4 linked regions of the Homo sapiens genome follow. The protein of the gene in region 2 purifies or fractionates together with the protein of the main gene of each other region. This does not show direct contact. Each region holds a gene or a part of one and is shown on either strand. Other genes may lie near its edges.

Region 1 (3,731 bases), about 61 Mb from region 2:
CACTGAGACTGAATAGCAGATGATTTAGCATGAGTTAACAGGTCAATTATATGGAATTATAATTGTTTCTGTGCATTGGGATTTTATGTTAAACATGAGAATGTAATGGTGGGCTGCCATATTTGAATTTAATTACTGTAGCCTGTTATCCAAAACATCATGAAAACACTGGAGAAAATGAGAAAAATGACATGAGGCATGGGAGATGAAAATGATGCTGCAGAGGAAATTATGGCAACAGATGTGGCTCTCTCTGAGGTATTGGCTCAAATTCATGATTTACAGAGAAGGGTAAGCATCTCCCAGAGAGTCTTCTCCAGAGTTAGATAACTCTTTACTTTTCTAGGTATTGGAAGCAAACAAAAACATACTTTTCCATCAATAAATGCCTGAAGAAGTGCAAAGCATTTTTCAGAACAGCAAAATCTGCAGGCTATCTTTCACTCCTATAGCATCTCTTACGCTGACAACGGAGTGTTTCATACTATACCTCAAATAAGACCGATACTAAATCTGTTCCAAAAACTATGAGGAAAACAAATGATAAATAATGCAAGCTGGTGAACAAAAGAGAAGACAACAAAGAAAGGACTTTTGAAATACCATTTCACTCCTACTCACTATGTCATTCAGCTGATCAATATACTCTATGCTTTAAATTTTTTGAACCTGCCCTCCCCAAAAACATATGTGTGTATGTGTGTTTATGTATATATATATATATGTTATATATATGGTGTGTGTGTATATATATATATATATATATATATATATATACATATATATATAAAAAACAACATTCATCCTTACTACATGCATTCTGATATATTCTACCTCATTTTTATAATGCTGGAATTCACTCCATGATCCACTAATAGGTGGCATCTTACAATTTTTAAAAATCCACTGTAGACAATAGATGTGAAGATTTTGGAAGTACACAGGGAGGACTATGGACATCCTGTGATGTGAGAACCACATTCAGGCATCCTGGGAGAAGATTAAGTTAGAAATATAGGAAATCACTTGTGTTAAGGCTGGCACAAACAGATATTTGGTAAATATCAGTTTTCACAACTCCTCCTGCAATATTACTATCCCCCAAGGCTTACAGAAGTGATGCTATTCCAACATCATCATAAGTCAATGAGCTGCCAGTCAAGGTTAACTACCTTAATGTTTAAATTCACCAACATCAAGGAATGGGACTGGAACATCCCAACATCAAGGAAAGGCTACTTAAGTGACCTTTTCTGAAAAAAGCAGCCTATCATTTTTAAGAAAATGCCTTTTCTAATCAGTCACTGTATTAGGCTGTTCCTGTGTTGCCATAAAGGAATGCCTGAAACTGGGTAATTTATAAAGAAAAGAGGTTTAATTGGCTCAGGGTTCTGCAGGCTGTACAAGCATGGTACAGGCATCTGCTCGGCTTCTAGGGAGGCCTGAGGGAGCTTTTAGTCATAGCAGAAGGCAAAGGGGAAGCAGGCATCTCCCTTGGTGAGAGGCAAGGCAAGCAAGTGTGGGGAGATGCCACACACTTTTAAACAACCAGTCGACCAGGCACAGTGGCTCCCATCTGTAATCCCAGCAATTTGGGCCACCAAGGCAGGTAGATTGCTTGAGTTCAGAAGTGCAAAACCAGCCTGGGCAACATAGGCAGACCCCATCTCTACAAAAATAAAAAAAAAAAAATTAGCCAGGCATGGTGATGCATGTCTGTAATCTCAGCTACTCAGGAGTCTGAGGTGGGAGGATTGCTTGGGCCCAGGAGGTTAAGGCTGCAGTGGGCCATGATTGTGCCACTGCACTCCAACTAGGGTGACAGAGCAAGACCCTGTCTCAAAAAAAAAATTAAAAAATAAACCACCAGATCCTGCAAGAACGAATTCACTATTACAAGAAGAGTACCAAGCCATGAGGGATCCACTCCCATGACCCAAACACATCCCATCAGGCCCCACCTCCGACAACGAGGATAACATTTCAACATGAGATTTGGGCAGGACAAATATCTAAACCCTATCAGCCATTTTTATAGGAAAATTTCTGAAGTATATGAAACACTGACTTTCCTTCTTAAAAAGACTACACAGAACAGAATTTAGCCTTTTCTCAAGGACATGGTGTCATAAATAGATATATACAATGGTAATTTTAGGGCTGGTAGATCCCTACCTTGGAGATCATCTATTGAAATTTCTCACTTTACAGATGAACTAAATGATGTCACAAGAAATTCTGTAATTTTCCCAAAATCACACAATAGGATGGTCATGTGATTATCATACACCATGCTGCCACATCTACTACTGTATGGTGCTAAACACTATCTAGCAAGATAATCAGGATTTAGGGGCAGTACTCCTTATAATTTCCATGTTTATCTTTGCTATCCCTTCTCTTTCCCCATAATCTTTAGCAATAAAACTTTTTTTTTTTTTTGAGATAGGGTCTTGCTCTGTTGCCCAGGCTGAAGTGCAGTGACACAACTATAGCTCACTGCAGCCTCAAACTCCCAGTTTCAGGCAATCCTCCCACCTCAGCCTTCCAAGTAGCTGGGACTACAGGCACGTGTCACCATACCCAATTAATTTTTGTATTTTTTTTGTAGAAATACAGTTTTGCTGTGTCACCCATTTCAGCTACTTGGGAGGCTGAGGTTTCAAACTCCTGAGCTCAAGCAATCCACCTGCCTCGGCTTCCCCAAGTGCTGGGATTACAGGCCTGAGCCACTGCACCTGGCCAATGAAACTTTTTTTTTTTTTTGAGACAGTCTCACTCTGTTTCTCTGACTAGAGTGCAGTGGTGCCATCTAAGCTCACTGCAACCTCCGCCTTCCAGGATCAAGGGATGCCTGTGCCTTAGCCTATAGAGTAATGGGGATTACAGGCCCGTGCCACCATGCTTGGCTAACAATAAAACTCTTAAATCAAAAGAATATATGTGTTTATCCTATGCAGTAGAAAAATTAAGCTAACCTACTCTGCAGCCCATCTTAGGGGAAGAACTCCAAAAGATGTGAGCAGTGTGCTTTTAAAAAGAAAAAATGCAGGCTGAATGTCTACATGGTCTTCAAAAAGAAAGAAGGATGCAATGAAAAGCCTACATTGTCTTAAGAACAGCTTTGGGGATATGACTGTTAGGAAGGCCAGAACGTTCCTGAGAATAGGCAATACAGTAAACTTCACAAGGGAAGGGACTAGGTTCTCAGTAAATGTGGGTTGAATGACCTGAAAAATGAGTATTTGTCACTACACTAAATGTTATCAGGCCTTTGTGATGTTTGATGTAAGTTTGCATTTTAGGTGTTTTTCTCTTCCCTTTCCTATACAAACTGTCATTTGTATGTCTAATAGCAACCCCACCAAACATAGTCTTTGCAGAAGTTGATAACATTCCTTGTATCTTCTAAGGGGGTGGTTCTAATATGCTGAGCTTGCTAGAATTATTTTTAAAATGAGGATGAATATGTTCTAAGTGATGATCTCAGGGATTCCCCTATGTATGAAGCATGTCAATATTATCATATAGATCTTATAACTTCCATCTTGACTGCTCTTCTGTTGAGTTCTTGGCTCTGCTGTGCTGCAGATTACACAGGCTTCCAGATAAGTCACCTCCAGTGAGATGTAATGTTACTGGGACGACTTTTAACGTTCAACCAATGGTACTTGTCTATAATCCACAAAACTGTCATTTAAATGACTTTTTAAATGGCAAAATACCCTGAA
Region 2 (3,731 bases):
TGATTTTTGGAATAAGCATCTTTAAGGATTATTCGCACCATAGCTCTTCTCCATCAGGGTGGCGCATTCACTTTACAATGAATGAGTGTCGCTCTCTTACAATACATGTTAAGTGAGGGCAGGGCCTGACCTGAGCTAATTACAGTGACTCAAGTATTTAAGGATAAAGAAAAAAAAAACAGAAATAAACTGATTAAATAAAAAGACAAAACACACAAAAAGAAACAAAAAATAAAATATTTAAGGGAAAAGTCCTACTCTGAGTTAAAGGCATATAGTTACCTTATATATGATTACCTGGTTGGTTGTACTGATCCTCATAAGCATCCAACCAATAAAAGTGGAATACTTGTTCCTCATCTGCCCCTTTTACCAATGGGAGGTGACTGGAATCCACTTGAACTTCTTGCACTGAGAAACTGCTATCACCTTCTTGATCAATGTCCCAACAAGAGACATCCGGGAGAAAACTTCCTCTGCAGAAATCACATTTTCAAAAACCTTTCAAAATCCAACAGAAAAATTGTGGTCCTATTTGCCAGAAAAGTCATAAAATGCTCTTACAAGTAGGACACGGTCCCTTTCCCAGAATCCGCCTCTTGTTTCACTTCCTCTGCTGGCTCACTCTCTTTGTCCCAAGCCTTGGCAGCCATAGGCTCCAGGTCCACCTCTTCAACTTCCATGGGCTCATCAAAGTCACCATCTTCAAACTCCATTGCCCCTGACTCCTGCTCTTCTTCTGTACTCTCGACCTGTACATCATCGCCTGTAGGCATCATCACACATTCTTGTCATGTGTTATTGCGATGACACAAAGGCACACAAAGGCACACAAAGGCGCACAAAGGCTTATCCAACACTAAAATAGCAGCCTGTCCCTTTTCTATACTATGTTTGCATTTCTCTTTAATCTCCAAATTGGGTGTTTTTAACTTTTACTGAAATTTTTATGAATTCAAATCTTCACATTTAAACTTGCCATCACAACACCTTCAAAATCTCCTCTACCTCCTCCATCATAGGGCCTCCATTTTTGACAGAAACCACTCAACACTCTTGCAATTCTGCCTGACATCACACTTACCAGCAAATTCAGCACGTTTAAGAGGAACAGGAGTTAATGGAGGCTCCTTTCTGGAGACAGGGGAAGCAATTTTTCCTGAAGGAACTGCCTGTAAACGTTTTTAAATATTTAGTCAGTTAGACCTACATACTAAAAATATGCAACTGTCCTACCCTGACCAAAGATAATGACAGTTCCCTTTTATAAAAAGATTTTATGTATTATTAATGTAACAGCTTCAATTATTTTACTGTTACCTAGGTTTACAAAAAAATACTTGCTTCTGGGAGGAAAATTATTGCATTTACCACAGTTGTAATACCTATAATAAACACACACTAGTTACTGCAAATTTACTATGAAAAAGGCAGGCACATGCTATTTTTGAAATACATGAAACTATAAATTGAATGGGAGTCCTAATTTAAAACAAAAATCAAAAACAAATGTAAAGGTATTTCCCTCATACAGAAAAGCAACAAAATAAGTTTAAAGCAATACTATAAATCAAGATTGAAGGTATCTCTACACACTTTACCGTGGCGGTGTGCACAGAGAAAGGATTCGGTGAAGCTCCAATGGATCTTTTCTTCTTCAGTATCATTACAGGTGGTGGAGTTATTTGAGGTGTCTAAAAGGAAAGGTAAGACATATTCACTGCCATGCTTGGTTTACCACAGACAGAAAAAGTATACTTCTTCACTCATTGAAGCCCAATAAGCAAAGCTTTCTTTTCTTTCCCTTTCCCCCTCCCCCCTCCCATCGATGTCATGTACTGTGGTTACTATAGCAACAATACTATAGAAATCACAAGAAAACTAAAATAGATATTAAATCTACCCCCTCCCAAATTTTTTCTTCTTAAAATTTAACATACTTTCACTGACCCTTTGAGAATATTACATTTAAAAATTGTCAAGATAAAACTACATGGTGTTGTTGTTAAGTCATTTTAATCAATGGTCACTTTAAAAGAAGTACACTTCTAAATGAGAGCGTAGTCTTTATGGGAAATGGCCAAATCTCAAATTCACAATGCAGCTAATCCTGTTTGAGTTCTATCAGGGATAGTTCACTCACTCTTCCTTCATTCCCACTCAGAATTCAAGACAAGGCTCTTATACCTGATTGTGCAGATTGACAGGCTTCAATCTATTTAGGGAACATACACCACAGCAACTGAACACAAGCAGTGAGCACTCACAGAACTGACTCCTGGGTATATTCTTACTACTTCAAACACACACCCACACATCCCTATCTACATAATCACACAGCTCTAACAGCTGGAAATACTCACCTAAAATGGTGGGATAAAACCAATCTGAAGGGGGTTTCTTTGTTTTTTGGTGGGGGGTTTTTTGTTGGCGTTCTTACATTTTAAAAAATTCTGTCAACAGGCCGGGCACAGTGGCTCACGCCTGTAATCCCAGCACTTTGGGAGGCCAAGACAGGCGGATCACGAGGTAAGGAGTTCGAGACCAGCCTGGCCAACATAGTGAAACCTAGTCTCTAGTAAAAATACAAAATATTAGCCGGGCGTGGTGGCAGGTGCCTGTAATCCTAGCTACTCGGGAGGCTGAGGCAGGAATCAGGGAAGAGGAACCTGGGAATCAGAGGTTGCAACGAGCCAAGATCGCACCACTGCACACCAGCCTGGGCAACAGTGCAAGCTACTGTTTCAAAAAAAAAGAAAAAATTCTGGCAATAGTCTGTTTTGTATAATTACTAGAGTGTTTCTTCAGTCTATGTCCTCTGCATATTTTACAACTCCTGGAGATTCATTTACCTCAGTGTTAAGATCCTGTAGAATGTCACCTAGCAGACCATCCTTGGACAAGTCTACAGCTTTCTGGAAATGATAAAGAAAGGTAACATGAGAAAGCCTTGCACTTAAAATGTCTCACCAAAACTACACACATGTATATGAAAGGAAGGACCTAGCCAGTTAGTCCTTGCCTCTTCATTCCTCACTCTCTGAGTGCTCATCTACATTCACAGATTTTAACAACCACCTGTGTATATAGCATTCCTACATCTATAGCTCCCATCCTCTACTTTCGCCCTTAATCCATGATCTTCCTGCTACTCACTAAAATTAAACACACTCTCAATTCAGCTTTTCTGTTCAATTCTCTTTTCCATTTCGCAAGTTCCAACCACTGAGGTGCCTTAATTCACTTAGAAATCTACATCCAACTTAGTGAGTGAAATTGGAAAAATGTTACTCAAATATATACAGAGCACCTGTTATCTGTATAATCAAATATTAAATTCACCTCACAAAGGAAAATACAAAAAATAAGGAAACCATGAAACTCACATCTGCAGTTTTCTTTCCAGCACAAGCAATGAACATTGACTTAATGTTGTTCGGTTTTGTCACTGCGAGCTTCTTTACATTCCTCTTGTCTTTATTGCGTGCTTTACCATCTTTTCCTATTGGAATATGAATTATTTAGAAACATGCATCAGCAAAAATCAAAATGGAAAACTAAAAGCCTAGTCACTTGATCTCTATTGGGAAGAAAAATGTTAAGAATTAAAAATACATCATGCCTGTATTCCCAGCACTTTGGGAGGCCAAGGCGGGAGGATCACGAGATCAGGAGATCGAGACCATCCTGGCTAACACAGTGAAACCCTGTCCCTACTAAAATACAAAAAA
Region 3 (3,731 bases), on a different chromosome or scaffold from region 2:
ATTAGCTGGGTGCTGTGGCAGGCGCCTGTAGTCCCAGCTACTCAGGAGGCTGAGGCAAGAGAATGGCATCAACTCAGGAGGCGGAGCTTGCAGTGAGCAGAGATTGCGCCACTGCACTCCAGCCTGGGCGACAGAGCAAGACTCCGTCTCAAAAAACAAAACAAACAAACAAACAAACAAAAAGGGATAATAATAAGACCTACCTCACAGGATTGTTGTGAGAATTGCATGTAAAAATACATGCAAAGCACTAAGGCTCATGCTTGCCATGTAGTAATTACTCAGTAAATATTAGGTATCATTATAATTTTTGATACTATATTTAAACTTAAATAAATGAAACTTTTTAAACAAAGACACATTAGCTTTAAAGAAACCAGGGAGTATAAAGCAAAAATCAGGTAAAGATGATAAACAGATATTTCTAGGTTTACTCTAATGGGTACTTTTGCCCACTTTCTGAGGAACCTATAACCCCATACCCAAAATCACAGGTGTCATTGGTTTAAAATAAGTTATGATTTTTTTATCCATTTTCTTTTTGGGGGTTCTATTTTAATGAAACCCTAAACCAAAATCAAATAAAATCAAATTACTATCAAAGGCAACAGAACATAAAGCAAGACCCACCTCATCCTTTAACTGAGCTAAGAAAAGAGGTAGAAGATGTTCAATGGTATTTTCTTTGCCCAAAATAGTAGACAATCCCATAATTACAGAAGCTAGAGCCGATTTGACATGTTGATTGGTATCGGATACTAATTCCTAAAATAAAATCGAAATTAAAAGCCTTTATTACAAGACAACAGAAACTTCCATACCATTATTCTGGGAAACAGAGTCTTGCTCTGTTGCCCAGGCTGGAGTGCAGTGGCATGACCTTGGCTCACTGCAGCCTCACCCTCCCAGGCTCAAGCACTTCAGCCTCCAGAGTAGCTGGGTCTACAGACATGCACCACCAGGCCTGGCTAATTTTTTTCATTTTTTGCAGAGACAGGTTCTTACTACATTGCCAGGGCTGGTCTTGAACTCCTGGGTTCATGCAATCCTCTTACCTTGGCCTCTCAAAGCGCTGGGATTACAGGTGTGAGCCACCACGCCTGGCCTAATTTTTTTTTTTTTGAGACAGTGTCTCACCCTGTCACCTAGGCTGGAGTACAGTGGCATGATCATAGCTCACTGCCATCTCAACCTCCTGGGCTCAAGCAATCCTCCCACCTCAGACTCCCAAGTAGCTGGTACTACAGGTGCATGCCACCAGGCTCAACTAATTTTTGTATTTTTTGTAGCAATGGGGTCTCACTATGTTGCCCAGGCTGGTCTCAAACTCCTGGGCTCAAGAAATCCTCCCACCTCAGCGTCCCAAAGTGCTTGGATTACAGGCATGTACCACCATGCCTGACCCCAAGGAATTTAAAGACAGCACTATTTCAATACTGATTAGTTGATAATGTTTCCTCAGACTACTTGTTAGGTAACATAAACCTATGCACCAAAGAGCAGTTTACAATTACAATGGGCTAATAAGTGATGAATAACAATGTTGCACATTAACACATCTTCCCCATTCATTCCCTGTCAACCTTTAAACTCAAAGAGCTTTAAGGTAAACAAACAAACAAAAATAATGAGATTAAGGTTTACCTTCATATAAAAGAGAGTGAAACAAAATAAAGTCAGGTTTACCTTTATATAAGGCAGAATTTGATTCATAATTATGGTCTCTCTATCTTCAATGGGCAAGTTCTCACCAAGTTCTAAAAGATAAATAGAAAAAAAGAATGCTTTCACAGGGCCATTTACAAAGAGCCAAATGAGGACATTTAACCAGGTTTATCAATAATTTCAATTAAATTATATGTTTAAGCAAATAAGGAAAACAGCTCTTGTTCTAAATAAACTTTTTCGTGAACTCTCTATGCCATTGCATATCACACCAATCCAACCTGAAAGGCATTTTTTTTTTTACAAAAACAAGACAAAATGATTTCTTGGTTTTAAATATAAAGAGACTATCTTTAAGTGACAATGTAACATTTCCACACACTAAAAACATCCCTATGTATTTTAAAAACATATTCTAGAACAAAAAACATGCAAAATTGACTAACAAAAAAATGCACCAAAATGAATGACACATGTTCCAACATAAATTGAACTCCTTAACCTTTTACTTTGTGGGCAGCAGCTGCCCGGACTTCAGCTTCACAGTCTTTAAGTAGGTTCTGAAAGGCGGGGATGAGGTCATTTAGGGTGATTTTAGGACCCATGGCTTTCTGGAGCTATAAAAGAATTTGAACGGGTTTTAATGTATACTAACAAAAGAATTAACAAGAACAAAACAAAATTGTGCAATCTGTAAATACATATTTTTGCCACAGCACTTCCCATTGAAAAGAATTAATTCAGAAACTTTGGGTACAACAGCAAATCTATGTGTTTTCAGGTTTATTTCCTTAGTACTTAAAAATGATCACTTTACCTCTGAAAATCTGTCAGCCACCATATAGCGAACGCGCCAAGATTTATCTTCTGCTGCTTGTCGAAGTGTAGGCATCACCAAAGTCTCAAGGTCATCCTGAGACAATAACTGGGCAATACTGACACAAGCTTCCACAGCAAGGAGGCGCACTGAATCCTAAAGGAACAAAATTTCTGTAATTCAGACATTTACTGAGACCCATGGGGAACTGCTGTGGGGTGGTGCAGGTGTTTAAAAAAATTAACACCACCAAGACTGCCACACCTTATATAGTTTCACGTCTTGACATCTTTTTCTTTTTTTTTTTTTTTTTGAGGCAGGGTCTCACTCTGTCACCCAGATTGGAGTGCAGTGGCACAATCTCCGCTCATTCCAACATCCGCCTCCCAGGCTCAAGTGATTCTCCTGCCTCAGCCTCCCGAGTAGCTGGGATTACAGGCAGGAGCCACCACGCCCAGCTAATTTTTGTATTTTTAGTAGAGACAGAGTTTCACCACGTTGGCCAGCCTGGTTTCAAACTCCTGACCTCAAATGATCCACCTGCCTCGGCCTCCCAAAGTGCTGGGTGCTGGGATTACAAGCGCGAGCCACTGCGCCTGGCCGTGTATTTATATCTTGAAAGAGCTGCTCCCGGCCGGGCCCAGTGGCTCACGTCTGTAATACCAGCACTCTGGGAGGCTGAGGCAGGCGGATCACGAGGTCAGGAGAGGGAAACCATCCTAGCTAACACGGTGAAACCCCATCTCTACTAAAAATACAAAAAAAATTAGCCAGGCGTGGTGGCGGGTGCCTGTAGTCCCAGCTACTCGGGAGGCTGAGGCAGGCGAATGGCGTGAACCCAGCAGGCGGAGCTTGCAGTGAGCCGAGACTGCACCACTGCACTCCAGTCTGGGCGACAGAGTGACACTCTGTCTCAAAAAACAAAAAGGAAAAAAAAAAAAAGAAAGAGCTGCTCCCTTTGCCTGGAATGGCATGTCAAAGTCATAAAGATAGAAATGACTTTGTACTATGAGTAAACAGCAAAGTAATTACCTTGGCTAGAATGCAGAGTTTCTATAAAGGAAATGAAAATTTTAAAATTAAGTAAAAAAGAAAAAAAAAACATTTTAATGATGCCTTCAAAGCCTTACTATAACAGAAAGTTGAGGGATAAAAATGAAAACAATATTTGTACAAGTTATTTATAACAGATTAGGACAAAGGTAAGAGTAAGAGTAAAGGAAATCACTTAGAAAGCTTAGTTTTCAAA
Region 4 (3,731 bases), on a different chromosome or scaffold from region 2:
ACAAACAGTTGCCCCTATCTCCCCACAACCCTCCCCACAGGCAGGACAACCAGAAGACAGGCATTTAAACCTAACTTGGAAAAAAAAAAAAAACAAAGATCACAGGGCTCTCTTCTAAAGAACCAAATGAACTATATGGAGAAAACTAGAACAGCCTCTAAAACTGCCAGCTTCCCACAGCAAAGCATTCTGCATTCATACCCTCGGGGTCACCCAGGACAACATCTGGTCCCACCCCTGTTCACCCTAAAGCAAAGCTGCCAGGCAACAACCACCCCCTCATCCCATACACACACACACAGTTACCAAACAGCCTTATTCCCTTATTCTTAAATAGAATGAAAATCACCAGGTATCTGAAGAAAGCTACACAGTTGAAAGGATACCAAAACTTTTTTTAATGACCTAGATAATATAGGGAAAATAAAAACATAAGAAAAATAAAGCAAAAACACTTCTAATTTAAAAAAAAATAGAGGTGCTTTTCATAATGGCAAGTTCCTGTTGAGATCAACTGAGAAAGCTAAATAAAATATATAAGAAAAGGAAATCTTCAGGAATTGAAGAGACATCAAGAAAAAGCAAATGTGAAATCTAGAGACAGTAAGAACACAAAACAAACCCAGCCTCTAATGTTACTTCTGCTCTCATGACATCTGCCAATCTGAAAAAGCTGAGAAACTGGGCGGTTATTTGTGTAGGCTGAAGGAACCAAGAGTCAAATCCCTGAGTCTACCCAAGTAAGGAAGTCTGACACCCATCTTTCTTAAGCTAGAGCCCAAAAGGCTGCCCCCTCAGAGTAAGGACGAACTGGAATTTAATCAGTGCCCCTTCACAGGCCTGCAGCCTGAGTTCATATCAGTATGATAGTCCAGAAACCTTCAAGTCTTAGATCTGGATTCAGAAGTCCTGCACTGATAATGGCTGTAGGTGGCTTCAGGAGCAAATGGAAATTTTCTTTGGAGAAAGTATCACCATATGGCCTCAACTTATCTAACAAATACTTTTTAAAGAAAATAACCATTATCCAAAGATAGGCATATAGGGGGATAAAAGGCCATGTGACAGTACCAAAAGAAACAACAGACAAAAAGACAGTCTCAAGAGACTATGGATGTTAGATTCGGCACAGACTAGCAAACAAAAAACTCAAAAGGCTTTGAATATTAGGTCATATATTGGATGGAACATTCACTATAAAACAACTGTGTTTACTATGTTTACAGAACTAAAAGACAAACTTCAAAATACCTGCAGAAAATAAGAACAACAAAAAGTACTCACAAAAATTGCTTGATACTTTATTAAGCTAAAAAAAAAGACAACAGATTTGGAAAGGAACCAAACAGAACTCACAGTACTGAAAAATACAAAAACTGAAACTAAAAAAAAAAAACAAAAAAAATAGTTTAAAGGAAATGAGACAAATGGAGAGAATAAACTGGAAGATCAGAAAAAATTACACAGAATGCATACTAGAGAGGCAAAATTATGATTGAGTTTTTACATATATTTAATGGGAATCCCAGAGAGAGACACAGGAAAGAACAAGGCAGAGCCAATAGCTGAAGAGACACTCGCTGAGAATTTTCCAGGACAGATGAAAGACATTAATCTATAGATTCAAGAAGCTCAAACAAACTACATAAAAAGAAATCCACACCTCTGTACATCAGAGTGAAACCACAGAAAATCAAAGTGAAAATCTTAAAAGCAGACAAAAAACAAAAAGGATAAACTAGCTTCAAAAGAATTACAAACAGGTAATTTCTCTATAGAAAACATAGAAGCCAAAAAAAAAAGCAGTAAAATGATAGCTTCAATGTGCTAAAAGAAAATAATTTTCCACCTAGAATTTATATTCAACAAATTATCCTCCAACAATGAAATTCAAGGCATTTTCATAAGAAAAAAATGAGAGAGTCAGTTACCAGACCATACTAAATGAAGTTCTAAATGATTTATTTCAGGAAGAAGAAAATGATCACAAATGGAGGATCGGAAATACAGAAAGGAGGCCAAGCACAGCAGCTCACGCCTGTAATCCCAGCACTTGGGAGGCCAAGGCAGGCAGATGACTTGAGGTCAGGAGTTTGAGACTAGCCTGGTCAACATGGTGAAACCCCATCTCTACTAAAAATACAAAAAAAACTAGCCAGGCTTGGTGGTGCATGCCTGTAATTCCAGCTACTTGGGAGGCTGAGACATGAGAATCACTTGAACCCAGGAGGCAGAGGTTGCAGTGAGCTGAGATCGCACCACTGCACTCCAGCCTGGGTGACGAAATGAAACTGTCTCAAAAATAATAATAATCCAGAAAGGAAAGAAAAGCAAAGGTAGTATGTGACTAAATCCATATATCATTGACTGCATAATTCAGGAATAAAAATGCCTTATGTAGATTGACAAAGACAAAACAAAAATACATGACAATAACAGCACATAAATTAGGAGACGAGGAATTTGAAAATTGAGTTAATGGATCCTGAGATCTCAATTTGTTGAGAATGAGGGGAAAGGTACTAAATAGGCTTTGATAAATTAAGGACTTACATAGTAACTGATAATCACTAAAAGAATAGAAATAGAGCATATAACTTCCAAGCTGATAGAGGGAAAAAAATCAAATAATAATCCAAAAGAAGGCCAAAAATTGAGAGAAAAAAAAAACAAAACATAAAACAAGCAAATAAAAAGCAGGACAAAATAAGACAATAGAATTCAAACTCATAGATATGACCAATTACATTAAACATAAATAAATGACGTGCTCCAGTTATAGACACAGACTGTCTGAATTTAGGAAAATAATCCAGTTAAATTCTGTTCACAAATATATGGAAAGATAAAAATTAAAAGATTTACAAAAATCCGTACCGTGCAAATAAATACTAACTAAAGAAAGCTGATAAGCTTTAATAATATTAAACAAAATAGACTTTAGGGCTCAAAGCAGTTAGAAATAACAATAGCCAATTTACAAATATAAAAGGCTCAATCACCAACAATATATAACAACATTAAATTTGTATATATCTAATCACATGGTTTCATAATATATAATGAAAGAATAGACCCAGAAATATAAGTAGAAATAGTCCATAATCATAGCAGTAGAGTTTTAACACATAACTCTTTGAAACAGGTAAAATAAGCAGACAGAAGAAATTCAGTAAGAACACAGAAAATCTAAATTATACAATAACCAAATTTGGCATTGCAACCCCTCTAACAGCATCACTGAATTCCATCAAATATTCAAAAACAAAATAATTCCAATCTTTCAATAAGTTTTCCAGAGAATAGATAAGATAAAAAGTGGGCCAGGCGCGGTGGCTCACGCCTGTAATCCCAACACTTTGGGAGGCTGAGGCGGGTGGACCTTGAACACCTGAGGTCAGGAGTTCAAGACCAGCCTGACCAACATGGCAAAACCCCATCTCTACTAAAATACAAAAATTATTGGGGTGTGGTGGTGCGAGCCTGTAATCCCAGCTACTCGAGAGGCTGAGGCAGGAGAATCACTTGAACCCAGGAGGCAGAGGTTGCAATGAGCTGAGATCGTACCACTGTACTCCACCCTGGGCAACAGAGTGAGACTCCATCCCCCACCAAAAAAAAAAAAAAAATAGATAAAAAGTGTATAATTGCCAATGAATTGTATGAAGCTCACACACAGTATGAAAAAAAAAGACTAATCTCTTTTATAAACAGGGATGCAACATTCATAA

What was found. Proteins that work in one complex are often made in the same cells at the same time.
Region 1: the proteins of POLA1 (region 2) and CHM purify together in Homo sapiens (co-immunoprecipitation; one large-scale study listed by IntAct). This does not show direct contact.
Region 3: the proteins of POLA1 (region 2) and PPP2R1B purify together in Homo sapiens (affinity purification with western blotting, with the first as the bait; one study listed by BioGRID). This does not show direct contact.
Region 4: the proteins of POLA1 (region 2) and POLE4 fractionate together in Homo sapiens (co-fractionation; one large-scale study listed by BioGRID). This does not show direct contact.

The regions. Positions count from the first base shown.
Region 1 is NC_000023.11:86,040,982-86,044,712, forward strand, and holds part of CHM (rab proteins geranylgeranyltransferase component A 1), read right to left. Parts: intron 1-3,731. UniProt on the Homo sapiens protein: Substrate-binding subunit of the Rab geranylgeranyltransferase (GGTase) complex.
Region 2 is NC_000023.11:24,714,325-24,718,055, reverse strand, and holds part of POLA1 (DNA polymerase alpha catalytic subunit), read right to left. Parts: intron 3,503-3,731; coding exon 3,387-3,502; intron 2,916-3,386; coding exon 2,853-2,915; intron 1,695-2,852; coding exon 1,602-1,694; intron 1,173-1,601; coding exon 1,085-1,172; intron 767-1,084; coding exon 565-766; intron 477-564; coding exon 298-476; intron 1-297. UniProt on the Homo sapiens protein: Catalytic subunit of the DNA polymerase alpha complex (also known as the alpha DNA polymerase-primase complex) which plays an essential role in the initiation of DNA synthesis.
Region 3 is NC_000011.10:111,752,813-111,756,543, forward strand, and holds part of PPP2R1B (serine/threonine-protein phosphatase 2A 65 kDa regulatory subunit A beta isoform), read right to left. Parts: intron 2,639-3,731; coding exon 2,483-2,638; intron 2,283-2,482; coding exon 2,168-2,282; intron 1,758-2,167; coding exon 1,687-1,757; intron 766-1,686; coding exon 631-765; intron 1-630. UniProt on the Homo sapiens protein: The PR65 subunit of protein phosphatase 2A serves as a scaffolding molecule to coordinate the assembly of the catalytic subunit and a variable regulatory B subunit.
Region 4 is NC_000002.12:74,964,989-74,968,719, reverse strand, and holds part of POLE4 (DNA polymerase epsilon subunit 4), read right to left. Parts: intron 1-3,731. UniProt on the Homo sapiens protein: Accessory component of the DNA polymerase epsilon complex. Participates in DNA repair and in chromosomal DNA replication.